Linked DNA regions of Homo sapiens. The protein of the gene in region 7 purifies or fractionates together with the protein of the main gene of each other region. This does not show direct contact. Each region holds a gene or a part of one and is shown on either strand. Other genes may lie near its edges.

Region 1 (3,500 bases), on a different chromosome or scaffold from region 7:
GCATGGAGGTAACTATGACAATGCATTTTCAATTCTGCAATATATGTGATACGAGTTTTACAAAAGGCTCAAAATGATAAACAGTGTGACATGGTGTCAAAAAAATGTTTGTATTAGTAACCACATGGAGCACACACAGTTACTGCATGGAAGGTTTGTTTTTTCCTTTTTTTGAGACGGAGTCTTGCTCTGTCGCCCAGGCTGGAGTACAGTGGCGTGATCTCGGCTCACTGCAACCTCTGCCTCCCAGGTTCAATGATTCTCCTGCCTCAGCCTCCCGAGTAGCTGGGATTACAGGTGTGTGCCACCACGCCCGGCTAATTTTTTTTATGTTTTTGGTAGAGACGGGGTTTCACCATGTTAGCCAGGCTGGTCTCGAACTCCTGACCTCAGGTGATCCGCCCACCTCAGCCTCCCAAAGTGCTGGGATTATAGGTGTGAGCCACCACGCCCAGCTGAGATTGTAACAGTTAGAACATCCCTGGGGTGGGATGGATGCCCTTGGGAAGAGTAAGCTCCCAGCCCCTATAAGAGATACTGCAGAAGAGGTTTATGTTTTAACCAGGTCAGACCTCTCAGATGTTTTCCAACTCTGAAAGTTTAATGATCTTTAAAAGGTGTTATTTCAGAATAAATGGTGCAACTCTTTATTCACAAATGTCAAAACCAAGGGTCTGAAAGGTCATACTAGTAACTACTGCTATTATTCTCATCTGGATCCAAGTCTAATTTAAATGTACTTTTTCTCAGACCAAGCTGACTCAATGTGGTCTTCAACAAGGAGTTGTCACAGGTTGTTCAAAATGTAGCTGATCTGCCTTAAAGTGGGGTAAAGAGAGACGAAGGTCTGAAGCCCAACTGGTGGGTTACCATGGTAGTTGACAGGGACATCTCAAAGGAATAAATGGCAACAGGCCACAATCATGGATACCTCTAGTGCCTGGGCAGTATACCATGAGCCAACATGGAACACTGGGAGGAGGCAGAGCTGAGATGACAGGAGAGAAGGAAGATGATGAGATCAGTCTGAGGAAGGTTAAGCTGACAGCAAACAGTGCAGATAGAGATGCGGTGCAGAAACACATAGGGTCCAGGACAGGCTTACAAAAGGGAGGATGGAACAAGCACCATGGCACACCTATAAACCCAGCACTTTGGGAAGCTGAGGTGAGAGGATCGCTTAAGCCCAGGAGTTCAAGACCAGCCTGGACAACATAGTGAGAGTGGGACCCAGTGTCTACAAAAAAAATTAAAAATTAGCTGGGCATGGTGGTGCATGCCTGTAGTCCCAGCTACATAGGAGGCTGAGGTGGGAGGACTGCCTGAGCCTGGGAGGTTGAGGCTGCAGTGACTTATGATCATGCCATTGCACTCCAGTCTGGGTGACACAGCAAGACCCTGACACCCTCCACCCCCCAAAAAAAAGAATGAAGAGTATTAAAAAATTAGGAAGAGTATAAATTGAAAACCTAGAAGAGTATTTTAAAGACTAGGAAGAAAGACCCCAAATTGGGTGGTTGGTCAGTGTCAAATATTGCAGAGGAGTTAATGGCAAATAAAATATTTGTGAAAATACTACTGCTGAATTCTGTAAGCAAGGTGTCACTGGCAAACTTAAGGGCAGTAACAGTGATAAGCGAGGGCTATTCTGGAGTTCCTAAGACAGATTCTCCTAGCTGGGAAGGTGATTTTGCAAGTCAGAAGTCCCGCAACTACATAAGGCCACCAACGGCTGGATGGCATAAGCTGGTGACTTGAGTATAATTTTTGGCAGTCTTGGCTGTGATGGCACAATATCAAAAGCATTAAAATTAATAGAGCAGGTCCAAAAGCCACTAATACTGATCTCTTTCCAGAGAGATCTCAACAATGGCCAGTTTTAAGTACTGGGCAATGGAACTCCTGCTAACAGGTCTTTCTGTTTCCAGCTGCCTGTTGCTATTACAAGTGGAACTCTTTACAAGATTTTGGTCCTTTCTGTTATAGCCCTTCCTCTCCACTACTTCTAAAATCAATAAACTAAGATAGTTTACTGTTAACTGAGATAGTTACTATGCTGACTTAATTTACAGACACCTGTCAAAAGCTACATTATACACATAAGGCTACTATACAGAGTTACAGAATTCTCTAGCAGTAGCTCCTGAAGGCCAATATATCGAAACATTTTCAATTTCATGGTGAAAGGAGAAAACCAGGGAAAATGTAGTGAATTTTCAACAAAACCAAATTAAGAGTACTGACTCAGGAAACAACTTGCTGGGCTCAACACCCAGCACCATCACTTACTAGCTATGTGACCTTTCGCAAGTTACTTAATATCTCTATACCCATTTCCTCACTTGTAAAATGGGGATAATAATAGAACCTACCTCACAGAGTTGATGTGCAGTTTAAATAAGTTAATATGTAAAAAAATATTTAAAACAATGTCTTGTTACTTGGTAAATACTATATAAATGTTAACTGCTATTAAATGTTAAAGCTTGCCCTTCCATTCTGGGAGTATGTGCTTCCTAGATAGACTCTTTGGGTGTTAAAAGTATATTCTGTTAACATGAAATAAAGGTGATACTATACTGTCTTTTTTTGTATAATGTCTTTATATATACATCTGAATCACGTATATCCTCTACTGAAAAGTCAAAATGGAAGTTATTCTAATGTCCTCAAAACAATTCACCCAAAACAAAAACAAGTAAAAATGTTTTGAGTCTTGTAAAATGCATGTCAACCCCAAAGAATTTATTAACAGTAACACTTACCCTATATTCAAAATCCGCAAACTCCCGGCCCCCACGACCTCCTCTGAATCCACCGCGAAATCCTCGAGGGGCAGTGAAGGTACCACCTCTGCCACCACCACGCCCTCTGCCACCACGGAAACCAAGACCTCCTCTGCCTCTGTATCCCCCACGGCCACGGTTTGGACGAAGTGGGATTCCAAATGTTTCAGCATTTAATCTTCTTTCTTCAGCCCAGGTTGGTCTCCGTTCTCTATTATAAAAGCAAATAATCTTCAGCATATCAGGTTTAAAAGAATATCCCTCAGCCAAAATATGCAGTGCTACTCCCAAATTAAGCCTAAGTAATTACTAAAGCTAATTAGAAATAAGCATCTTGGCTAGGCGTGATGGCTCACGCCTGTAATCCCAGCACTTTGGGAGGCCGAGGGGGCGGATCGCCTGAAGTCAGGAGTTCGAGACTAGCCTGGCCAAAATGGTGAAACTCATTCTCTACCAAAAATACAAAAAATAGCTGGGCATGGTGGCAGGTGCCTGTAATCCCAGCTACTTGGGGGGTTGAGGCAGGAGAATCACCTGAACCTGGGAGGTGGAGGTTGCAGTGAGTCGAGATCGAGCCACTGCACTACAGTCTGGGTGACAAGAGCGAAACTCCATCTCAAAAAAAAAAAAAAAAAAGCATCTTATCTAAGTTATCACGAGTTGTTCATGGCATATGAGTTCAATATGTTCCTGTAATATTCTGTTAAACTTCAT
Region 2 (3,500 bases), on a different chromosome or scaffold from region 7:
CTGAACACAGCGATCTTATTTAAATGGCATAAAGAGGCTGTGGCAAAGATGCCATCTACATTCAGTTTTACATTCATTGATGATATTGATGATTAATGGCCATAACTTGAAGCTAAGTCAATCTCCCATTTGAGGTGGGTTCCTCAGACTGTAACTTCAAGAGTAGAACAATCTCTTTTCTTCAGTGTTAGTACTAGGACTTGCCATTTTCTTAGAAATTTCTGAGAACAAATTGTAGAAATATTTAAATGTATATTAGTAATGAGGCTAATGTTTTACTTAATCCTGTTAATGAATACTGTGGGCTAAATTGGCAAAGTATATATTATATGAAACCTTTGAGAAACAGTGGATTCCAGTAATGAATACAGAACTGGAATGTCATTTCCACAAGGGGTTTAAAAACAGCTATAGGGCCAGGAGCCATGGCTCACGCCTGTAATCCCAGCACTTTGGGAGGCTGAGGTGGGTGGATCACTTGAGGTCAGGAGTTCGAGACCAGCCTAGCCGACACGGCGAAACCCCATCTCTACTAAAAATACAAAAATTAGCTGGGCATTGTGGCGCATGCCTGTAATCCCGGGTATTTGGGAGGCTGAGGCAGGAGAATCGCTTGAACCCAGGAGGCAGAGGTTGCAGTGAGCCAAGATTACGCCACTGCACTCCAGCCTGGGCAACAGAGCAAGACTCCGTCTCAAACAAAACAAAACAGGTATGGTATAATAAATATATTTGGTGTTGGTCTTTGTGGTTCCAGGCACAGAGTTCCAAAAACCTTAAGAATTTCCTCAGCAGGCTGGGCGCGGCGGCTCACACATATAATCCCAGCACTTTGGGAGGCCGAGGCAGGTAGATCACCTGAGGTCAGGAGTCTGAGACCAGCCTGGCCAATGTGGTGAAACCCTGTCTCTACTAAAAATATAAAAATTAGTTGTGTGTGGTGGCATGCACCCTTAATCCCAGCTACTAGGGAGGCTGAGGCAGGTGAATCACTTGAACCCGGAAGGCGGAGGTTGCAATGAGTCGAGATTGTGCCACTGTACTCCAACCTGGGAGATGAAGCAAGACTCTGTATCTTTTGTTATTCATGATGAACTCCCTCAGGACCACACTGAATTTATGTTAATGAGATGACCTGGGGTGGGGCCAACACTAGTAAGGGCAAACTGATTGGAACTTTCAGCTTCACCCACCAATGTCCTGAATAGAAATGCAGATTATGTTGTATGAAAACTATTTTCTTCTTCTCCTTTTAAAATTAATTTTCCCATAAGTCTGTGTCCTAGCTGTATAAAAACTCTTGAGGCTGGGAACGGTGACTTATGCATGTAATTCCAGCACTTTGGGAGGCCGAGGCAAGAGGATCACTTGAGCCAGGAGTTTGAGACCAGTCTGGGAAACAAAGTGAGACCCTGTCTCTACAAAAAATAAACAAAAATTAGCTGGGTATGGTGGCATGTGTCTGTAGTCCCAGCTACTTGGGAGGCTGAGGTGAGACGATTGCTTGAGCCTAGGAGTTTGAGCCTGCAGTGTGCTATGGGCACACCACTGTGCTCTAGTCGGGATGACAGAACAAGAGCTTGTCTCAAAACTAAAAAAAAACCCTTGATGAGCTTCCAGGTTGGTGAACACATCCGTGTGCTAGGAGAACACTGCACTGAGCTCCTCAGGGTCAAAGCTCCTGAGCGTGAGATCCTCTGAACCCCACTCTAATTACTTCTTCAGCTGGCTGTTAATCTGTATCCTTCATAACAAACACATAAATGTAAGTAAAGTGTTTCCCTGAGTTCTGTGAGCCATTCTAGGAAATTATTGAACTGGAGACAGGGCTCCCCTGATTTACAGCCTGTAGGGCAGAAACACGGAGGGCCAGATTCACAACTGGCATCTGAAGTGGGGGGCAGTCTTCTGGGACCGAACCCTTAACTTGTGGGATCTGATACCAACTCCAAGTAGACAGTGTCAGAATTGAATTGTAGGACACCCAGCTGTTGTTGAATTGGTCAGTGTTGGCAAAAACCCTGCACATTTGGTGTCAGAAGCGTTCTGCTTAAGTACACAAAACCAGTGTGTTTTCATCAGAACAGGAGACATCTTCATGTATGATAGCTTTCTCAACTCTACCATGGGGGTAATGACAACTCAGCCACTGACTGTTCTTCAGAGATCATGAGAATGGAAAAGTTGAACACATTTGTTCCTTAGAAGAAGAAGAAGGCACTAAACGTTAACACTAGCAAGTTTTAAGTCTAATTTTCCAAATGATAAAGATAATCAAATTAAAACAATCCATAAATGAACAATGTAGAAATCTGAATCTGACATAATCCATATTTTCCAATAACCATTATTGATAGTTTGATGCAGCAAGTTTTGAAAAAATCTTTACTTTTTTTTCTTGCTACATTGCCCTGGCTGGTCTCACACTCCTGGCCTCAAGCAATCCTGCTTTGGCCTCCCAAAGTGCTGGGATTACTGTCGTGAAGCAATGCGCCCAGCCAACCTTCACTTTTATCTTCTTTGCTATCATAAACTTTTACAACATACTTACTTGTTCGTTTGTAAAATTGGAAAGACTGTGTTTCCCACACCACAGCCAACCTGCAGACAGAAATGAACTATTAATCACAGAACTTTCCAGAGTTAATTCCCGAAAGCTAGAAAAGCTAGAAAAATAATAATCAACAAGAATCTGGCCTAACTGTATTAGGGAAGGTGTAGTGACCAGAGCTAAACAGTACCCATGACATTTGTTGATTTTGATGTTGACTTCAGGAACCCTTAAAAGACAAGAACATGGGTTTTTATTAGCAGAAACGAGGTGGTCTAGAAAAAAGGGCAAGGATTGCTTTTATCTTTTGAGTTCTAGCAAATTGTCCTGTAGATGAAGTATTTTCTTACTAAGCTTATATTATTATTGTGAAAATATTTGTAATAGACTGTGCTGAAAAATGTATGAAAAGGGGACCTTGACAACCTTGTCCTAAACACAGTGCTGCGTGGTAATGAAGACAGCAACTATTTATTAAGGGCTTAACAATGTGCCAGATACTGTTCTTAGCCCTTTTACATACATTATCTCCATCCTCATAAGTATAAGGTGCAGAGGCAGCAGTCTCACTGCTCAGAGAGGGTAAGGAAATTGTCTAAGATCACACCATAGGACTCAATCCCAAGGCTAACCAGTTCCAGAACCAGCTTCCAGTAACGTGCGCAGTCCCCATTTATGAATTTACATTATACCAATCTAGACATTTTTCCAGGTCTAGACTCTGCAACACCATCCAAATGCAGAGGAAGAGAATTATCCCAGGCCTAAGAAACAGGCACCATCCTAACTACCCTCTCCATTCCTGTAACTGTATTAGAAGAGAAGCAACAATTTCTTCTGATCTGGGACATTTTTCCAGAGTTATAGCATGATCATGTTGAGCTCTTTCACCTGTATGATACAGTGTCATGTGACAGGTACAGCATGATGCTATTAATACAATTTTTGG
Region 3 (3,952 bases), on a different chromosome or scaffold from region 7:
ACACCACTGCACTCCAGCCTGGGTGACAGGGCGAGCGAGACTCCGTCTCAAAAAAAAAAAAAAGGAAGAGAAAGAAAGAGATGAAGGAAGAGTGAGAGAACTAAGAGGGCGGGTGGCTGGAGGGGGATGGGCAGGAGGGGCGCAGGAGGGAGCAGTCAGACCTCCAGTTTGCAGGAGACTGAGCAGGCCTAGCCCAGGGCCCTGGCTGTCGTGATGGAGGAGGGGACCTCCAGGTGACCCACAAAAGAGGCTGAGTCACAGGCCTTGTTCTTAACTGAAAACATGGGCTGAGGGAGAGCAGAGAGTTGAAATGGCTGGAGGAGCAGCAGTGGGTGTTGGAGAGGCTGTGACCCCTGTTTTGGAGTTTGAGGGGTCTGGGGGATGGCCGTACAATGCAGAGGAGTGTTCTGGACAGAAGCTTAAATGTTGGGAATCACCGGCACCGGGAACCAAGAGGGTGCACCCTGCCCAGGAAAGGTTAGACTACCAGGCTGGGAGGTCCCAAGAAACCCTAGGTGTCACTTAGGGGAGAGGGTGCTGTAACTCAGGCTCACCCCCACTCAGCCCGGGCTGGCAATGGCTGGCTGGAGAGCCAGAGGGTAGGAGATGTGGGGCTCTCAGGTTTCACAGCTCTCATTTCTCCCACCCCGCCTGGCAGGGTCTAGCTAGGCTCTGGCAAAGAATCAGAACATAACACTGGGACTGGCTCCGATGAGTAACCCAATGCCAGGCTGGTTGGAGTGGGAACCTGGGCTCCCCACCCCCATGAAGCTACTCCTCACTTCTGAGCATGGCTTGCCTGCTTGCCCCTGCCCACTCCCAAGCCTTTATCCACGCTGTCCCCTCCACCTGGAATGCCTCCTCTGGGCCCCACTGGGCAAAACCCGACCTATCTTCCCAAGGCCTGCTCAAGTGCTGTATCGTTTCTGGACTTTGTCCCCCTTCCCTGCTGGCCTCCCACTGCCCACTAGTGCCCTTCCCTAGAACACACTCCACCACCTGCCTCTATCACAAGGGCCACACACTGGAGGTGAGAGTCTGTCTCTGAGTGTCTGAGACTGAGTGCCTTGGGAACAAAAAGCACACATGGCCCAGCCCAGCCCACTCCCAACTAAAGAAGTGAGCCTAGGAGTCAAGATTCGAAATCCTGTGTGAGCCCTGAATGGCTCCTCAGCCTCTGTTTACACGTCTGTAAAATGGGCTAATAATCCACCTCACTGTGATGATCAAGTGAGTTGATGCGTAGAGGGCATCAATTACTGTGCCTGGTACACAGCAGGTGCTCCATAAATGCGTCTCCCCTCTTCCTTCCCAGGGCCTCACCTGGGGAGCTGAGAAATCCATTACTGACAACTAGGGCTTCTAGGAGGAGAAGGGGCCTTTGTTTTACCTTCACCCACATCAGAGGACCCACACTTCACACCTGCTTTCCTTCACAGCCAAAGTAAGCACTGATGAAGGCAACAAGTGCCTATGGAGACCCTGTTGGTGTTCCTCCTGCCCAGTTACACAGGCCACAACACAATCCTGCCCCCTCCGCCTGGGGAGTCAGGGGAGAGGCATCAGATGTGGGACTTGAAGGGTGAAAGAGATCCTCTGGAGGGGGGAAAGGCATCCAGGCCCAGGAAATGGCATGGGCAGAGGGAGAGAGGGAGGGAGGAATGAGCCTGGTGAGCTGGAGCAACTGCAAATGGTTTTAAGGCGGCTGCCATGCAGAGGGCAGGGAAGGGACCTGGGGAGACTGAGGCTGCAGAGATAAGCTGAGCAATTGGCCAGGGCTCCGGGTAAGCCAAGGGGTTGGGCTTCATCCTGCAACCACAGCGAAGTTTTTACCTGGGTGGGACGGTATTGGGATTCCAGATCTGGAAAGCTGGCTCTGGAGGCAGGAAAACCTAGAAAGGTCTAAGGAGGTGGCTACTGAGGGCCTAAGGGAGCTGGGAGAGGTGGCCCTGGAAGGCTGCTACCGGGCTTGCGTTCTTGCTCCAGTTATCTCCATGCTGGGGTCAGAAGGAGCGAACCCCAGCCGATAAACAAGACAGTCCCAAGGGAAGACTGCATGTGGGGACTGATGCACCCCACTCCTAGACCAGACAGGACGCCAGCTCTCATTTCTGCTTTACAGAGACTCGCTCTCCTGGGCTCCTTCCTGGGGCTGGGGGGCAGGGAGCGGGGAGGGCGGTCCTCCGTCCAGCCTAGTTTACTGACTCCCTCTCCGGGCCAGATGGGCGCTGGAATGGGTGGCTGGAGAGGGGTTCGGGTCCTGCCTAGGGCGAGAGTAGCTGGAGAGAGGCGCGCCTGAGAGGTTCTTCCAACTGGAAAGAGCTCTTATTCCACCGGTGGGGAAACTGAGGCACGGCGAGGGGAAGTCACCGGCCCAAGGTCACGCGTCGAGCTGAAGGCAGAGGCAGGGTTTGAACCTGGGAGAGCTGGCTCTCGGGAGGCCTCGGCCAGCGACCGAGAAAAGGGAGGGGCGGCGGGGCGGCGGGGCCTGTGTTGGGGGCCGGGCGCGCCGAGCTCACCTGGTAGTTGTCTAGCTGCTCTTCGGTGAAGATGGTCTGCTTGTTCCCCATGGTGGCCGCCGCGCCGCCGCTCGCCCGCCCGGGCTCCGACTCCCATCAGCGGCCGCCAGACCCGGAGCCAGCGCCCCGTGCCCGCGGCCCTCGGCAGCCCCGCGGCTGGCAGCGGCCCACGGTGGCCGGACCCTTCCCGCCCCGCAGCTCGCCTGGAGGAGGCGCGCGGGGGTCTCGGAGGCGGGGACGGGAACCCGGAGCGGCAGCGACTCCGCCGCCGGCGGGAAGAGGGCGGGGCACCCGGCTCCGCGGCTGCAGCGCGCCCGGGTCCCGGCAGGAGGCGACCTGGCCCCGGGAGACGCTGCCCGGCACGAACCCTTGGCTCCCGCGGCCGGAAGTGCTGGGGGCGCGCGGGGGTCTCGGAGGCGGGGACAAAGACCCGGAGCGGCGGCGACTCCGCCCCGCAGCAGGAAGAGGTGTGAGCCCGGGTCCCGCCGTGGGAGTCCAGGTCGCACGGCGTGAGGGTGCGGGGCCTGGGAAAAAACCCTCTCGAGGCGGGCAGTGGGGCGAGTGGCGCCCCTTGACCTGGGGCGGGGGCGGCAGCGAGGACTGTGAGTGCGTGGATCTAGCTGGGGCCGGGCTCCGCCACCGTCTCGCGTCGCGACCTTGGTCAAGCCCTTACCCGGGCCCTGTCCCTCTGGGGAGAAGGAGGGGGTCAGTCAAGCTGACATCTGAGGCCCTCCCGGCCAGGCCTCGGGAAGCCCATCTGGCCTTTGGGCGCGGCCTAGGCAGGGCATCTCAGACCTTCTGTGTTCCTTAGGGAGCAGGACAGGATTTACTTGGCTTGGTTACAAACGTGAGACTTGAGAGGATTTAAAGGACTTGACTGTGTCCACAGAAGTGTGACAAAGGCCAAGACATTTTTTGGAGCTTTTAAGCAGATGCCATTGTAAGGGAAGCAGGACTTTACCTCTGCCCTCCTAGGGTCTTTGGCTGGGCTTGAGAATTAATTTGGCATAAGACAGATTAAGGGGAGAAAAACAGATTTAATACAAGTTTTACATGACGTGGAAGCCCTCATAAGGAAATGAAGACCCTGAGAACTGGCAAAATCTAAATACTTTTTTTTTTTTTTGAGATGGAGTCTCCCTCTGTCGCCCAGGCTGGAGTGCAGTAGCGCGATCTTGGCTCGCTACAACCTCCGCCTCCTGGGTTCAAGCGATTCTTCTGCCTCAGCCTCCCCTAGTAGGTGGGACTACAGGGGCATGCCACCACACCCAGCTAATTTTTTTTTGTATTTTTAGTAGAGAGAGGTTTCACCATGTTGGCTGGGCTGGTCTCGAAATCTTGACCTCAGGTGATCCACCTGCCTCAGCCTCCCGAAGTGCTAGGATTAGAGGCCTGAGTCACCACGCCCGGCCAATTATTGTATTTTTTTTGTA
Region 4 (3,500 bases), on a different chromosome or scaffold from region 7:
GAAACCCTTTTGAATATACTTCTCTGGTGACTCTCCGTTAGGTTAATTATCTCTCTCCCTTGGACTGTGAGTGATAAATGCTGCCAAATTCTTCCTATTTGGCTTCCTTCTTCTGGATTTTGTTAACACCACTCCCATTCTGTTAACACATTCTTTCTTCAGTTTGACAAAAACCTTTGATTAGATAGATTTTCTTCCTTAGCACTCATGTTACCATCAGGCCTTCCAGAGATTATTGTCCAGTTACCTTGACTGGACTTAAGTGTTTTTCAGGGCCATCTGGTAGACATCTATAAAGTTGTCCTTGAGGATGTAGCAGAACAGGGAACATGGCCCAAAAGCCTCAGAGATGGGAATATGAAACTAAGTATTAAGGTGAAATATGTGTGAGTTATGCCAATTTAGCAATTACATTGCCAGAATGAATCATAGCAATTTAGCATTTGCCCTTACAGATAAACTGCTGTAGGCAAAGAGACATGCAAGAATATTCAAGGCAGCCTTATTTGTAGTCAGGAAAATTAGAATGATTTAAATGTCCCATAGTAGGGGGCTAATTAAATTATGGTACATCCATATGATGAAATTTCATGCAGCCATTAAAAAGGTTAGGGACAGATCTATTAATATTTATTGCTTGCTAAGAGATGGAAAGAACGTGTTGAAAAAGAAAAACTTTAGCTGAATTAAGTTTAACAGAGTTTAAATGAGCAAAGAACAATTCACAAATCAGACAGCGTCCCGAGCCAGAGTAGGCTCAGAGACTCCAGTGCAGCCATGTGGTGGAAGAAGATGTATGAACAGAAAAAGGAAAGTGACATACAAAAAATGGAAGTGAGGTACAGAAACAGCCGGATTGATTACAGCTTGGCATTAGCCTAATTTGAACACGGTTTGAACAGTTGGCCACCTCTGATTGGCCAAAACTTGGTGATTGGCACAAGAGTAGGCTACAGTCTGTATACAACTCCATTTACGTTATAGTTTGTAATGTGCTGAGAAACCTTTAGGCCAAACTTAATATATAAGGAGGCAGCTTTAGGCTAAACTTGAACTTGATTTAACAATTCCCCACTTTCGGTTATTTCAGTTTTAGAGGATGACCAAGACTTTACTCATTGATGTCATTATCACCATTGTAAATGTATTTATTTGGTCTTGGAACCCACTGGGAAATAGCAGAGCAGTGGGTTTTGTAAGGTGGGAACAAGGACTTCAGGTTATTTTTTTGTGAAGGTTAGAGTAGAGGGTACCTCCTTATGGTGGGATGTCCTGTTTACAGAAGAAAAACAAAACTTAGTCTGTTCTAGGATCTATTTGTTTCCTTAAAGTCTTAGTTTGATTATGTCACATTTAGCATAAATGACTCTATTTTGGTTTGGTGTGGTCTGTTGGAGGCTAGTGCATGAGCTTAGTCGAAAACAATGGCCTCCCATAATTTGTTTCCAATTTCTCCTCTTTTGGTCAGTTTCTTACTTAGGTAAGAGTATGAGCAAAACTTAGGGCCTTAGCACTGCTCTCAGTTACCTCATTTTGTGTTTCTGGTCTCAGCACATCATTCATAGGTTATGGTGCCTCTCATGGTCACATATATCTTTTAGCTCTTTTCATTCCAGTTGAAGAGAGACCATTTGACATTCTAGAGATGGCTGCATGCAAACATTTAAAACTTTTGAGAGAATACAGTGCACCACGGAGACTACTGTTATGACTATCAAGAGGATAATACCTAGAGTTTGGACTATGCTCCTTAGCCAGGTTCCCCATAAAACAAACCAACTAAAATCAAATAGATCAAAGAATCAGCTAAAGACTCTACTTGCTTTAACTAAGCAGTCTCTTTGTTAATCCCCTACAACTGAATCTCTAAAATACCAGATGTGATGGAAGTGCCAACAGCTGCATAGATACTTCCCTGTTTAGCCAGCAGGTAATCTAGAGCAATTCTATTATTTAGCATAACTTTCAGAAGAGAATTTTAAGTCTGTTGTGTAACCATATCCTTTACAGTAGAATCTGCTAGAGAGCCTATCATGAGGGATAAATTTCTTTCTTTCTTTTTTTTTTTTGAGATGGAGTCTCGCTCTGTTGCCCAGGCTGGAGTGTAGTGGCACGACCTCGGCTCACTGCAAGCTCCACCTCCCGGGTTCACGCCATTCTCCTGCCTCAGCCTCCCGAGTAGCTGGGACTACAGGGGTCCGCCACCACTCCCGGCTATATTTTTTTTTGTATTTTTAGTAGAGACGGGGTTTCACTGTGTTAGCCAGGATGGTCTCGATCTCCTGACCTCGTGATCTGCCTGCCTCAGCCTCCCAAAGTGCTGGGATTACAGGTGTGAGCCCCTGTGCCCAGCCAAGTTTTGTATTTTTAATAGAGACGGGGCTTCACCATGTTGGCCAGGCTGGTCTTGAACACCTGACTTCAAGTGATCCAACCGCCTCGGCCTCCCAAAGTACTGGGATGACAGGCATGAGCCACTGTACCCAGCTGAGGGATAAATTTCCAATCATTGCCTCATTTACTCCAAACCATGGAAAAAAGGACCTAATACATGATGCCCTTTGAGAAGAGTTAAGACCTCCTGGCAATGATCTTTTTAAACCATGATGTAGGTTAACAGGAGTGGACCAGTGCTCTGTTTCTGACAGACTATGAGGCAATGTATGTGTCATTAAAATTTCCCACCTACATTGGCCCTTTGTCTTCCATCTATCAAGGCATAAGGTTATCCATGTAATAAGGCTGGCTGCAAAATCTTTCACAAATAAAAGTACACCCCATGAGTGCACACAACAGACCCCCTTTTCACTTCTATTATTCGTAGGGGCATAAACAAAGAAAAAATTGAAAGATAAGAGTCTCGTGATAGTAAAGAAGTCTTGATCTGTGATCTTGGGAAAAAGTCTACATCAAGGATACCGTCTTCTTCTGGGGAGAAACTTCCCTGGTTAGCTTTACCTTAAGGTTTCTAATGGGTGTACAGTTCCAAGTATGTGGAGGGACCCTTCTGAGTTATGAAATTATGAACCCAAGGTTCAAGGTCTCAAAGTCTTGATGCAGTATGGATGGCAAGTGCAGTCTTTCTGTGACATTCTCAGAAGACCTACTCTTTGGGCTCTAGATTGTGAAGGGCTTCATGTCCTCAGTCAGTGAACCATGAAAAGCTTTCTTTTCCTGGTGAAAATACACGGTGGCATGATGAGCTACTGTTACAACATCAGTCCTCTTGTGTGGGAAAGCTTTTATACAACCAGACGACCTGCATTGAAAAATGACAATAGAATGAAATCCCTCTATAAATGTTTAAATGTCCCATCAGCTAGCGAAATGTACCTGAAATTTTTATTGTCTTCCCAGGAATATGGGTTTGACAAACCAAATATTGGTCATAAACTATTTTAGCAATGTAGAAGTCACTACACACACACACACACACACATTTAATTTGGATCATTTTATGTTTTTCATGATGAGTTATGGAATGCAGAACTTTTAATAAA
Region 5 (4,127 bases), on a different chromosome or scaffold from region 7:
TAAAAATATTTGTGGCTGGACACAGTGGCTCATGCCTATAATCCCAGCACTTTGGGAGGCTGAGGCGGGCGGATCACTTGAGGTCAGAGTTCCAGAACAGCCTGGCCAACATGGTGAAACCCTGTCTCTACTAAAAATACAAAAATTAGCCGGGCGTGGTGGCGCATGCCTGTAGTCCCAGCTCTGTGGGGAGGCTGAGGTGTGAGAATTGCTTTAACCCAGGAGGCGGAGGTTGCAGTGAGTCAAGATCGCACCACTGCACTCCAGCCTGGGTGAAAGAGCAAGACTCCATCTAAAAAAAAAAAAAAAAAAAAAATTATATATATATATATATATATATATATATATATATATATATATATATATTTTGAGGTTCGCGATGTATGAACCCTGTAGTAGCAGCTTCAGCATCATTTGGAAACTTGCAGAAATGCACATTTTTGGGCCCCACCTCAGACCAACAGGAACAAACTCCACGTGGGACCCAGCAATCTGCATTTATATAAGCCCTCTTGCATTGTCTATTTTGAGAATTTCTTATGCTATTCCTTTCAAACAACTCTAGCTTTCACTATTCATTACTGAGATCATCTCCTGGCCCCAAAGGCCTCTGCATTTTCTAGCACAAGGGAGCAACTTGCAGACCCCTGGGTTATTTATATACCACCTCAGAGGAGCTACACCAGGCTGGGAGAAAACACTTCCAAAGTCCAGTCAAAAAACTGTTAAAGATTTTTGTTTTTCTAGGTGTGGGTGTGGTTTTAAATTTGTTTTTCTGATTTGTTTGTTTTCCATCTATGGAAGACCTACTGGTTCCATAAGACCTTAATTTTCTTTTTCCTTTGAAGATTAAAAAGGGCTGTGAGGATATTGCTAACTGAAAATTTATGCAAGTAAAATTAGAATTTTCCATCATTCTCCTTCAACATTGCCAGTATATAAGAAGTTTTACTAAATTCAGAAGCTAATTTTTTTTAGCACGTACCTATTTTGTTAGTGGGCATAGCAGGTCCCTTTTCTTTCTAGCCAAGTGTATTTCTCTGCCCCTTCTTCTCCCACAGAAGATAGCAGCAGATCTCATCCTATCCAGTAATTGCCCCAGAAATACTGTGAAAATTTTGACACCTTCACCGCCGTTTGTGAGATAGAAAAGTTCGTTTTAAAAAAAGAACTGTTGGCCGGGCACAGTGGCTCACACCTGTAATCCCAGCACTTTGGGAGGCCGAGGTGGGTGGATCACTTGAGGTCAGGAGTTCAAGACCAGCCTGGCCAACAGGGTGAAACCCCGTCTCTACTAAAAATACAAAAATTAGCCAGGCGTGGTGGTGGGTGCCTGTAATCCCGGGTACTCAGGAGGCCGAAGCAGGAGAATCACTTGAATGGAGGCTGCGGTGAGCCGGGATCAAGCCATTGAACTCCAGCTTGGGTGACAGAGGGAGACTCCGTCTCAAAAAAGAAAAAAACGTTGGTGACATTTCAGACCAGAAGACCTGCTCCTGACAATGGTTAGTATAGGGGGATTTGTTGATTTTCTCCAACTAGTATGTTTCTCATGATCTATGTAGGCTCTTTGCAAAGTACTAAGTGTTCAAATATCTGGGCTGCCTTAGAATGAGAAAGGGACACCCAAGGGACAGTTATCTATTCCAAACACCCTGTGAAAGGCTTCTGGTGCTTGATATCTTGACCTTCAGAGCACATATCCAAGAGAGGGACTACTGTGGTACACCACCATGGCAAGGTGGGCGGAGGGTATGAATGCTGTCAAGCATATTTTTAATCCCAGAATATGGGATTTAAAAAAGTATTTAATCCCAGGATCCTTTTCTTTCTTTCTTTCTTTTTTTTTTGAGACAGAGCCTTGCTCTGTCACTCAGTCTGGAGTGCAGTGGCGCGATCTCCGCTCACTGCAAGCTCCGCCTCCCGGGTTCACGCCATTCTCCTGCCTCAGCCTCCCGTAGCTGGGACTACAGGCGCCTGCCACCACGCCCGGCTAATTTTTTTGTATTTTCAGTAGAGACAGGGTTTCACCGTGTTAGCCAGGATGGTCTCGATCTCCTGACCTCGTGATCCGCCCGTCTCGGCCTCCCAAAGTGCTGGGATTACAGGCGTGAGCCACCGGGCCCGGGCCCCCCGGATCCTTTTCTTGCCACATCTTCTAAGAGGAAGTAGAGGTAGAAGTAAAAGTCTTTGTCAAATGTCCAGCCTAGGTCGCGGCGCGGTGGCTCAGGCCTGCAATCACAGCACTTTGGGAGGCCAAGGCGGGCCAATCACTTGAGGTCAGGAGTCAGCCTAAATATTCGGCAGAACCAACATGGGACGAGAGCGCTTCTAAACCTAGGTCCCTGCACCTCTTCGCACAAAGTTTAAAGATGGTTCACCCCATCCCCACCGCCCAGAAGTCACTGTCAACCACTCCAGAAGGGCTTGAACCTACAAAGTCTGCTCAAGCTGCTCAATAGCTCCCAGATATGGAACACCTGATTCTCCTGGCCAAAAAGGTTTCCCCTTCACACCCCACTTCCCATTCCAAGGAACCCCATCTCTTGATTTCCCCACCTGGGAAACAGGGCGTTAGCGCCAAAGTGCAGCTGAGGTCCTGAACTGTAAACGGAGATCCCGAGGGTCTGGAGCTGCCGAGAGTGCGAGAGGCTCCCACTCCCCGCCGGAAGAAGGGGCTTGGGCCTCCTGGGTCCCTATCCGGGGGCGGGGACCAGAAGGTTCTGGCTGAGGCGGACGATGCGGTGGGAACCTGGGCCCAGTCCCACCATCCGGGCCCGGGGCTCACCTGCTGAACTCTGAGGGTCTCACGCTCCAAAGTGGCGGCCGCTGTTCGTGGCGCCTGGCAACCGCCTTTGTGACCCAGGACGGCAGGGCAGCCCGAGCCGCGGCGGGGATGGGGGCTCGAGGCGCCCTACTGGGAGGCGTCAGGGCCACACTCCCCGCCCCCACCTCATTGGAATGCCTTGTCCAGGACTTGGCCTTCAGGAGGGCTGGTCCGAATCCTGTCCCCTCCATTGTCCTCCTCCCTACCGTGCCACACCTGTGTACCTGTGTGCCTTTGATCAAGCCACAGAGGACAGGCGACCCCTACTTCAATGGCCATGGTCAGAGGCCTGCATAAAAGTCCCAGGACCTGTAGTTAGTGTTAAAAGTTAGTCCCAACTCATCACACTCTGCTCAGTGGGTGCTCAGGCAGAGTGACCCAGAGCTCTGTCAGGTTTTGTTGCTCTATTTGAATGATCCCAGTGGCAAAGAAAGAGAATTAATAAATGTTCACCTGTCAAGAGCAGGAGGAAACGCACGTCTTTCCTTGATTTCCTGACAGAAAACCTTTCTCAGCCTTGCGTTAAACCTGAGAGTACCTGTAATCCCAGCTATCTAGGTGGCTGAGATGGGTAGACTGCTTGAGCCCAGGAGTTCAAGACCAGTCTGGGCAACGTAGTGAGATTCCCAGCTCAAAAAGAAAACAAAAAAATCTCAAAAAGAATGATTTTGTCTCATTCTTATAATGCAGAAATACACTTTCGCCATATTAGTGAAGGAGTGATTTGACAACTTTGTAATCATCACTTAAAATAATGACCCTGGATGGCTGAGGGAAGGGAGGAGTCTACCCAGCTGATGTCTGTATTCCCAGTACCTGGCTATTGCCATGTCTGGCAGTGTGCAGTATTTGTGGGAGGAAGTAACTAATGGCCTACTTGGCCTTCCCTTGTACACCCAGAATTGCCCTTGCATTTTACAAACTATAGAACACACACCACAAATAAGACTTGTCACCTTTGTTCTGGTTTTTTGGGTAAAGCTGATGGAGAAAGACTGAGGGTCTGAGAATAGAGTCAGGCAAGATCCTGATTTAGAAGACACACACCCACTGTGTGTACATGTGCACCTTTTGGAAGAAGAGGTAAGTGGAGAAGAGTCTGGAGGGCATGTCGGGTCAGAACATGAAGAGAGAGGCACAGAATAGTGAGACTTGGAAGAGACACAAATGATTTTGAATTACAAAACTTTTTTCCCCAGTTAGTTCATTTTTATTTCCCTCTTTTTTTTTCTTTCTTTTTTTGAGACGGAGTCTCACCGTGTCACCCAGGCTGGAGTGCAGTGGCTTGATCTTGGGTCAC
Region 6 (3,500 bases), on a different chromosome or scaffold from region 7:
AACTCAATTCTAACATGCTCTGCCACTGCTGGGTAACGTTACGGCCATTCATCATTCACTAATAAATTTCCTTGTTACCAAAAAGGTTTATGATGCCCTGCTCTGATGTAAACATCATACTAAAAAAAAAGGTCATTTAGTGACCAAAGCACAAAGTGCCAGAGGAGGAGATACTGCAAAAATGAGATGAGATAGTCTGATGGCTTGCACCTATCCCAGAGATTCTGTATTCCAACACAGATTTCCAGATGCCTCCCCAACTCCTGACAAGGACTATAATCTTAGTTTGAAATGTCTCAAGCACCTGCTCCCATAGGACGTAAAAGGCCATGCCAGGGAACTCTTGACATTTAAGATTCTTGGTCATGGTGGGGCCCCATGGGGGTGCCCAGGGCATGAGTCTCACCAACGCTCTTCATGCAGCTCCCAATCTTTGTGCTGACTCGCAGGAACTTGCTAAGGTCCCATCGAGGAATCTTCACCACACAATAATCCACGCTGGGTTCAAAGGCTGCTGTACCCCCTGTCACAGAGTTCCTGGGGTCCAGCAGGTGGGATGCCAGAAGGACAGTGAAGGAAGCATAAAGGGTGAGCTTCCGGATAGCTCTTTCCATTCCCACAAATCCAGGCCAATGTCCTTTTCATATTCCCTGTCCCATCAATATTTTCCTCAGCCCCCGACCCACTTCCCCACTGTGATATCTCCCTCATCCTCGTACCTGAGCTCAGGCAAAGGGATGCCCAATGCTAGCTTGGCTGCCACATAAGCCAGTGGATAACCTGTGGCCTTACTGGCCAGGGCAGAGCTGCGAGAGAGCCTGGCATTCACTTCAATGATGTAATACTGCAAAGAAGGAGAATAAAGTCACTGGCCTAGAAGACCCTGTCTAGGAGAGGTCTCAGAAAGGAGAGAAAAGTAACCTAGTAAAGAAGATTCCAGCTTGTACTCCAGGGACTGTAAGCCCAAAAGACCTCAACCTCAAGGGCCAAAAATTATACAAGAAGAGGGGGTAACAACTAGACTATCAGTTCCAGGGCCTAGAGCTTACCTGCTCAGACTCAGGGTTCAAGGCATACTGCACATTGCACTCCCCAACAATTCCCAGGTGCTGGGTCACCTTGATAGCTGTCTGCCTCAGGAGCTGATACTCCCTGTCATTCAGTGTCTGGCTAGGGGCCACCACTATGGACTCACCAGTGTGGATGCCCAGTGGGTCCAAGTTCTCCATGTTACACACCTGTGAAGGGGGGTGCCATGGAGGTCACTGCCAAGCAGAGTCAGGAGAGGCAGAAGGCTGCACCCCAGGGTCCTGTTACCTCTGGGGCTGCACCTAACCTGGGTCTGAGGGACATACAACTCTCAAAGACCTTGGCCTGGGCCTCTGCTCTTCCAAAAGCTCATCCTGCCTGACACGACGCCCACCCTTCCCCCATTCACTCACCGTGACACAGTTGCCATAGGCGTCTCTCACCACCTCGTACTCAATCTCCTTCCATCCCTTCAGAGACTTGTCTACTAGCACTTGGCTGGTATGGGCAAAAGCTGGGGCCACGAGAGCAGAGAGCTCCTCCCTGTTAGAGGCAAAGCCAGAGCCCAGGCCACCCAGGGCAAAGGCTGCACGCACTAGCACAGGGTACCCCAGCCGTTCAGCGGCTGCCTGGGCCTGCAATGAGTGGAAGAGATGAACAAACAGGTTATTTCCTACTGTCCAAGGTGTGCCTGTCCCACATAAAAAAAGATATAAAGAAAATAACATGGCTGGGCATAGTGGCTCACGCCTGTAACCCCAGCAATTTGGGAGGCCGAGGGTCGGGGGGGTGGATCACCTGAGGTCAGGAGTTCGAGATCAGCCTGACCAACATGGAGAAACCCCGTCTCTACTAAAAATACAAAATTAGCTGGGCATGGTGGCGCATGCCAGTAATCCCAGCTACTCAGGAAGCTGAGGCAGGAGAGTCGCTTGAATCTGGGAGGTGGAGGTTATGATGAGCCGAGATCACGCCACTGTACTCCAGCCTGCGCAACAAGAGCGAAACTCCGTCTCAAAAAAAAAAAAAAAAAAAAGAAAATAACACTACCAAAAAAAACACCACCATTCTTCCTTTACCCAAACACCCCTCCAACCTGTTCAAGAGAATTTGCTGCCTCGCTCGGGGCCACATGCTCTCCGATCTCTGCCATTCTGGCAGCAAAGGCCCGTCGATCCTCGGTCAGCTCAATGGTCTCCACTGGTGTGCCCAGGACCCGGACCCCATACCGAGCCAGCACCCCGGCCTTGGTCAGCTCCACACCACAGTTCAGAGCAGTCTGGCCCCCAAAAGTCAGTAACACACCATCGGGGCGTTCATTACGTATCACCTGAGGATGGAGAGGGGAGTTACAGGCATCAGAACCTTGTGGGTAGAGAGGCAATCAAAGTTTAATAACCCACAGTGACCACTGGGCCCCCCTGCCCAGTCCTCTTTTCATTCCAGCCTTGCCCCAGTCATACCTGGGTTACATAATGAGGTGTTATGGGAAGAAAATAGACCTTGTCGGCCAGCCCCTGGGAGGTCTGCACTGTGGCAATATTGGGGTTGATCAGCAACGTCTGGATGTTTTCCTCCTTCAGGGCCTTAATTGCCTAAAAGGACAAGAATGGCATCTCAGCCTCTGCTGAAGAAGCAAAATTGCAAACAGCCTTAGAGTAGCATTCTCCTCTTCTTTCCCTCCCTGTACTCTTGGCCCCTAATAATTGACTTCTATTTCTTACTACATCTTTCTCTACATTCCCCAAATCTGGTTCATTTCCTCCCTGCAACCTTAGCCCTTCTCCTTAAGACCCTTTCCATTCTTGAGGGTCACACGCCCAGAAGGGTGGGGAGGAACATGCCTCACCTGAGAGCCCGAGTAGTCAAATTCTCCAGCTTGGCCAATGGAGAGGCCCCCTGAGCCCAGGATCAGAACCTTTCGTGGTGGTGGAAGTCCAGAGCCGGGAGTGGGAATCCCAGGGGGACAGAGGCGCTCAGTCAGCCGCTCTCTAACTGTGGAAGCAAAGAAGGTCGTAGAATGTTAGAGCTGAGCTGGACCCAAGAGGTCAACTGGATTAGCTCCCTCGCTTTCAGAAGAGTCCAGAGCAAATTATGCACCTCAGGAGGAGCAGAGGGAGGACCAGAACCCAGGACCCTGGAGTTCCTTTCAACAGAAGCTTAAACGGTATCTTGGGTTGGTTGCCACCCATCCCCAATACCCTTAACCTCCTAGACATCTAGGAGTTGCCCAGGGCATGTCCACCTTATGCCCATCCTGGAGCCAACCCTGTTCTTAGGTCCACAACCCAGTTCTACTCAGGATCTTACCTGTCTGGCCCCCAGGGTTCCCAGCTGTGGCCTCTTTCACAGTTTCCAGAAAGATATCGAAAAGCAGTTCCATATCTGAAGGGCCAGCTTGGTGCTCTGGGTGAAACTGGACACTATTGAAGAGATTGCATCATGAAAACCATCATGGTCCCTGGCATGAC
Region 7 (3,500 bases):
GGCCAAGCCCAGAAGTGGTCCGCAAGATGGGAGACAAGGTGGAGGCCCGGGCCATCGCCATTGCTGCGGGTGAATATAACGGGCAAGCAAGGGGTGGCCCCGCAGCTCCTGGAGAGGGTCCAGCAGGGAGGGGTGGCAGGGATTCCCGCCTGTTACAGAGACTCCCCCACACCTTTCTCCCAACAGGTGTTCCCGTTGTCCCTGGCACAGATGCCCCCATCACGTCCCTGCATGAGGCCCACGAGTTCTCCAACACCTACGGCTTCCCCATCATCTTCAAGGCGGCCTATGGGGGTGGAGGGCGTGGCATGAGGGTGGTGCACAGCTACGAGGTGAGTGAAGATGCCCAGGGCTGGGAGCAGGGCAGGGCAGCCTGCCGTGGGGGCAGGGGCGGACCACTCAAGGGATCTGGAAAGTGGGTGGGGTTCATGGCAGGGGAGAGGTAGCGCTGTGGGGTCTGAGGTCTGGCTGGCCCCTGCCCGCCCTCGCAGGAGCTGGAGGAGAATTACACCCGGGCCTACTCAGAGGCTCTGGCCGCCTTTGGGAATGGGGCGCTGTTTGTGGAGAAGTTCATCGAGAAGCCACGGCACATCGAGGTGCAGATCTTGGGTGAGTGGTCCTGACGCCCCGCCTGGGGCAGCTGGAGGCGGGAGCTGAGAGGCCCAGTCCTGGTGCCGTCACAGTGGCTGGCCTTGGGGACAGCCCTGGGGCCTGTCGGGCGCTTTTCCAGAGGACTCTGGAAAGTGGGCTCTAGGGGCCGAGCTGGCAGTTGGTCCTCACAGCCTTGGTGATGCTGGTGTCTCTCCTGGCAGCCTCTGTACCGCTGGCAGCCGGCACTGACTGGCGACAGTGGTTATGTGGGGGTGATGGGGCATTTAGGAGGCGTGTAGATTCCAGTAAAAGCTAAGCCCAGTTTACCTCCCTCCCCAGGGGACCAGTATGGGAACATCCTGCACCTGTACGAGCGAGACTGCTCCATCCAGCGGCGGCACCAGAAGGTGGTCGAGATTGCCCCCGCCGCCCACCTGGACCCGCAGCTTCGGACTCGGCTCACCAGCGACTCTGTGAAACTCGCTAAACAGGTGAAGGGTGGGCTTCCCGTGTTGGGACAGGAGCCTGTGCTCACAGGCCGGCAGGCCTCACAGTGGGGCGCTGGTTGGGGAAGGGGACCCTGAGTCCCCTTCTGGGGACTGGGGATGGGGAGAAGAGGGTGAAGGACTCTCCTGGGGGCCAGAAGTGGGTTTGTGGCATCCTTCCCATGTGCAGTTGAGGCACCTGGCCCAGAGGCCAAGCTTAGAGTCCAGGATGGCTGAGAAGAGGGAGGGAAGGAGCCCCAGCCGCCTCCTCAGCCCTGCTGCTACACAGACCTGGCTTCTCTGTGGCATCAGCTCATCCCTGTCATCAGGAGAATGAGATTCCGTGGATTCTGTCAAGATTGAGGACCATTATGAAGGCAGTCCTCCCTCATGTGCTTCTGTCTCCTACATCATGTTTATTATGATCTGTTTCCTTGCTCTGCACCCTCTGCCCATCTCTGCTTTTCTGGGACCTCTGGTCGGGGGGTCCTGGGCTGTGGAGGAGGCTGAGGTGGCAAGCTATCTCCCCACAGTGACCTGCCCCAGGACTGGCCTGGAGAGCACCTGCTGTGGCCAGGTGTGCAGCGGGGTCCTGCCCCCTCTTCTTCCCTGGCCTATAGGCAGCAGAGGATGCGTCACCTCCCCATGCCGAAGGCCGGGGTGTGCACTCTGCAGCAAGGCCTCAGCCACAGCTAATGCGAGGCATCGACCAGGGTCGCGTTTAAGTCAGGTCTTATTTACTGGCTTATACTATTTCACATTCCAGAACAGGTTTAAGGGAGGTGATTCAGTCTGGTTTATCGTTTTGGTGAGACCAAAAGTGAAACTGGAATTAGGGCTGAAATTTGAGTTAGAGTCATTATCTGTTGGTACCTCTCAAATGAATTTCTTTGGGTGGTGGTGGCCAGAGGTGACTGCGCAGTAGACTAGAAGGGGACTTTCTGAAAACACCTCCAAGCAGAAGCAGCGGCTGGGAGAGGCCTGGGTCTCCGTGTCTGGGTGGATGACACAGCCTTGGCGGGCAAGCCCAGGAGGCAGCAGGGCAAGGTGCCGAGCCTGGGATGGGTGGGGGCTTCTGCCCATGTCTCGTCCCAGATAAGCTGGGTGCAGCCATCTGTGGCTCCGGGAACCCTGGAGCCTAGTGGACTACTTGGGGGACGTGTCCAGGCAGGAGCATGACCTGGGCCCTGGGGTCTGTCTGCCATCTGTGGGGGCAGGGTTTGCCACAGGCCATTCTTTTACGGAACCAACCCAATGGGTGGGACGGAATCCCTGTCCTGAGTCCAGTGAGTTTGCCCAGGCCCTGCCTGTGCCCTCCCCTGCTCACGTGGCCGCCCCCACAGGTGGGCTACGAGAACGCAGGCACCGTGGAGTTCCTGGTGGACAGGCACGGCAAGCACTACTTCATCGAGGTCAACTCCCGCCTGCAGGTGGAGCACACGGTCACAGAGGAGATCACCGAGTGAGTGTGGGCGGGCAGGCGGGGCGGGAGGCGCGGCTTCTAGGATTTGCATAAAGTACAGGCGAAGTGGCTCCTGGGGCCAGCCAGGGGGCTTGCTCACTCCCCACATTGGTGGAGAGCAATGGGGATCCAGGTACTTAGTGTTTTAAAAGTCATTATTCTAAAAGCATTACGTGGTTATTATAAAAATCAGCACAAAGGAGCAAATAAAAATGACTGACAGCCCTCCTCTCTGTCAGGACGCTGCCGATTGCTCAGGCCCAGGTGCTCCCATCTGTCAGAGGAGTAAAGCAAGGCTCAGAGACATTTGGAGAGTTGCTCGGGGTCACACAGCTGGCGCTGGAACCCAGGCATCTCCGGCTGTCTTTGGTTTGCTCCTTTCCCGGTTTACCTGTTTTACTAGAGACATAGTTTGATGCAATAGAGATGTTTTATATAGAATTTTTATTCTACTTTTCAAATTATTTAATATTTGTTGAAGGCATTTCCCCAGGCCATAATTCTGTCTGAATACTTTTAGTGGCTGCGTACTATTCCGTCTTGTGTGTATTTCTTAACTTACATAGTCCTCGATTGTTAGGCAATTAGTTTGTGTGTCTGGCTTTGGTGGTTATTAAGCGTGTCACTTATCATCTGTGTGCCTGAATGTTTGGCTTCAGCTCTGAAGAGTTCTGAGGGTAAACCCTTCAACAGGATTATCTGATTGAAGGATAAGTAGCATCCCTCGGAACAGCCCTCTAGAGAGGTGGCACTAGCGTGCTCCCTGCAGGCACTGAGGATGACATTTTCAAAATCCGCCTGGTTTCTAAATGACAGTCATGATGGCCCTCACCCTTCAAGGTCTCTACTATGAGCCATGTAATTTCTTGACGCTGCTTTGGGCCAGCCCATCTCACTGTGGAGCATCCCTGACCCCAGTTCTGCCCCCAGCCCCAACCCCACCTGAGACTGAGGATGCTGTC

Evidence for each region.
Region 1: the proteins of PC (region 7) and LSM14A fractionate together in Homo sapiens (co-fractionation; one large-scale study listed by BioGRID). This does not show direct contact.
Region 2: the proteins of PC (region 7) and METTL2B purify together in Homo sapiens (pull-down; one large-scale study listed by IntAct). This does not show direct contact.
Region 3: the proteins of PC (region 7) and CIB2 purify together in Homo sapiens (co-immunoprecipitation; one large-scale study listed by IntAct). This does not show direct contact.
Region 4: the proteins of PC (region 7) and CYP27A1 fractionate together in Homo sapiens (co-fractionation; one large-scale study listed by BioGRID). This does not show direct contact.
Region 5: the proteins of PC (region 7) and FANCD2OS purify together in Homo sapiens (co-immunoprecipitation; one large-scale study listed by IntAct). This does not show direct contact.
Region 6: the proteins of PC (region 7) and CAD fractionate together in Homo sapiens (co-fractionation; one large-scale study listed by BioGRID). This does not show direct contact.

What each region holds. Positions count from the first base shown.
Region 1 is NC_000019.10:34,221,004-34,224,503, reverse strand, and holds part of LSM14A (protein LSM14 homolog A), read right to left. Parts: intron 3,018-3,500; exon of another isoform or gene 2,998-3,017; coding exon 2,766-2,997; coding exon of another isoform or gene 2,670-2,765; exon of another isoform or gene 1-2,669. UniProt on the Homo sapiens protein: Essential for formation of P-bodies, cytoplasmic structures that provide storage sites for translationally inactive mRNAs and protect them from degradation. Acts as a repressor of mRNA translation. May play a role in mitotic spindle assembly.
Region 2 is NC_000007.14:128,479,748-128,483,247, reverse strand, and holds part of METTL2B (tRNA N(3)-cytidine methyltransferase METTL2B), read right to left. Parts: intron 2,602-3,500; coding exon 2,552-2,601; intron 1-2,551. UniProt on the Homo sapiens protein: S-adenosyl-L-methionine-dependent methyltransferase that mediates N(3)-methylcytidine modification of residue 32 of the tRNA anticodon loop of tRNA(Thr)(UGU) and tRNA(Arg)(CCU).
Region 3 is NC_000015.10:78,128,646-78,132,597, forward strand, and holds the start of CIB2 (calcium and integrin-binding family member 2), read right to left. Parts: upstream 2,801-3,952; 5' UTR 2,571-2,800; coding exon 2,520-2,570; intron 1-2,519. UniProt on the Homo sapiens protein: Calcium- and integrin-binding protein that plays a role in intracellular calcium homeostasis. Acts as an auxiliary subunit of the sensory mechanoelectrical transduction (MET) channel in hair cells.
Region 4 is NC_000002.12:218,788,647-218,792,146, forward strand, and holds part of CYP27A1 (sterol 26-hydroxylase, mitochondrial precursor), read left to right. Parts: intron 1-3,500. UniProt on the Homo sapiens protein: Cytochrome P450 monooxygenase that catalyzes regio- and stereospecific hydroxylation of cholesterol and its derivatives.
Region 5 is NC_000003.12:10,105,456-10,109,582, forward strand, and holds the start of FANCD2OS (FANCD2 opposite strand protein), read right to left. Parts: upstream 2,801-4,127; 5' UTR 2,560-2,800; intron 1,083-2,559; exon of another isoform or gene 1,005-1,082; coding exon of another isoform or gene 986-1,004; intron 1-985.
Region 6 is NC_000002.12:27,223,869-27,227,368, reverse strand, and holds part of CAD (multifunctional protein CAD), read right to left. Parts: intron 3,453-3,500; coding exon 3,340-3,452; intron 3,025-3,339; coding exon 2,879-3,024; intron 2,625-2,878; coding exon 2,493-2,624; intron 2,360-2,492; coding exon 2,126-2,359; intron 1,665-2,125; coding exon 1,443-1,664; intron 1,239-1,442; coding exon 1,050-1,238; intron 845-1,049; coding exon 720-844; intron 538-719; coding exon 407-537; intron 1-406. UniProt on the Homo sapiens protein: Multifunctional protein that encodes the first 3 enzymatic activities of the de novo pyrimidine pathway: carbamoylphosphate synthetase (CPSase; EC 6.3.5.5), aspartate transcarbamylase (ATCase; EC 2.1.3.2) and dihydroorotase (DHOase; EC 3.5.2.3).
Region 7 is NC_000011.10:66,867,884-66,871,383, reverse strand, and holds part of PC (pyruvate carboxylase, mitochondrial precursor), read left to right. Parts: coding exon 1-69; intron 70-186; coding exon 187-332; intron 333-491; coding exon 492-609; intron 610-930; coding exon 931-1,082; intron 1,083-2,419; coding exon 2,420-2,538; intron 2,539-3,500. UniProt on the Homo sapiens protein: Pyruvate carboxylase catalyzes a 2-step reaction, involving the ATP-dependent carboxylation of the covalently attached biotin in the first step and the transfer of the carboxyl group to pyruvate in the second.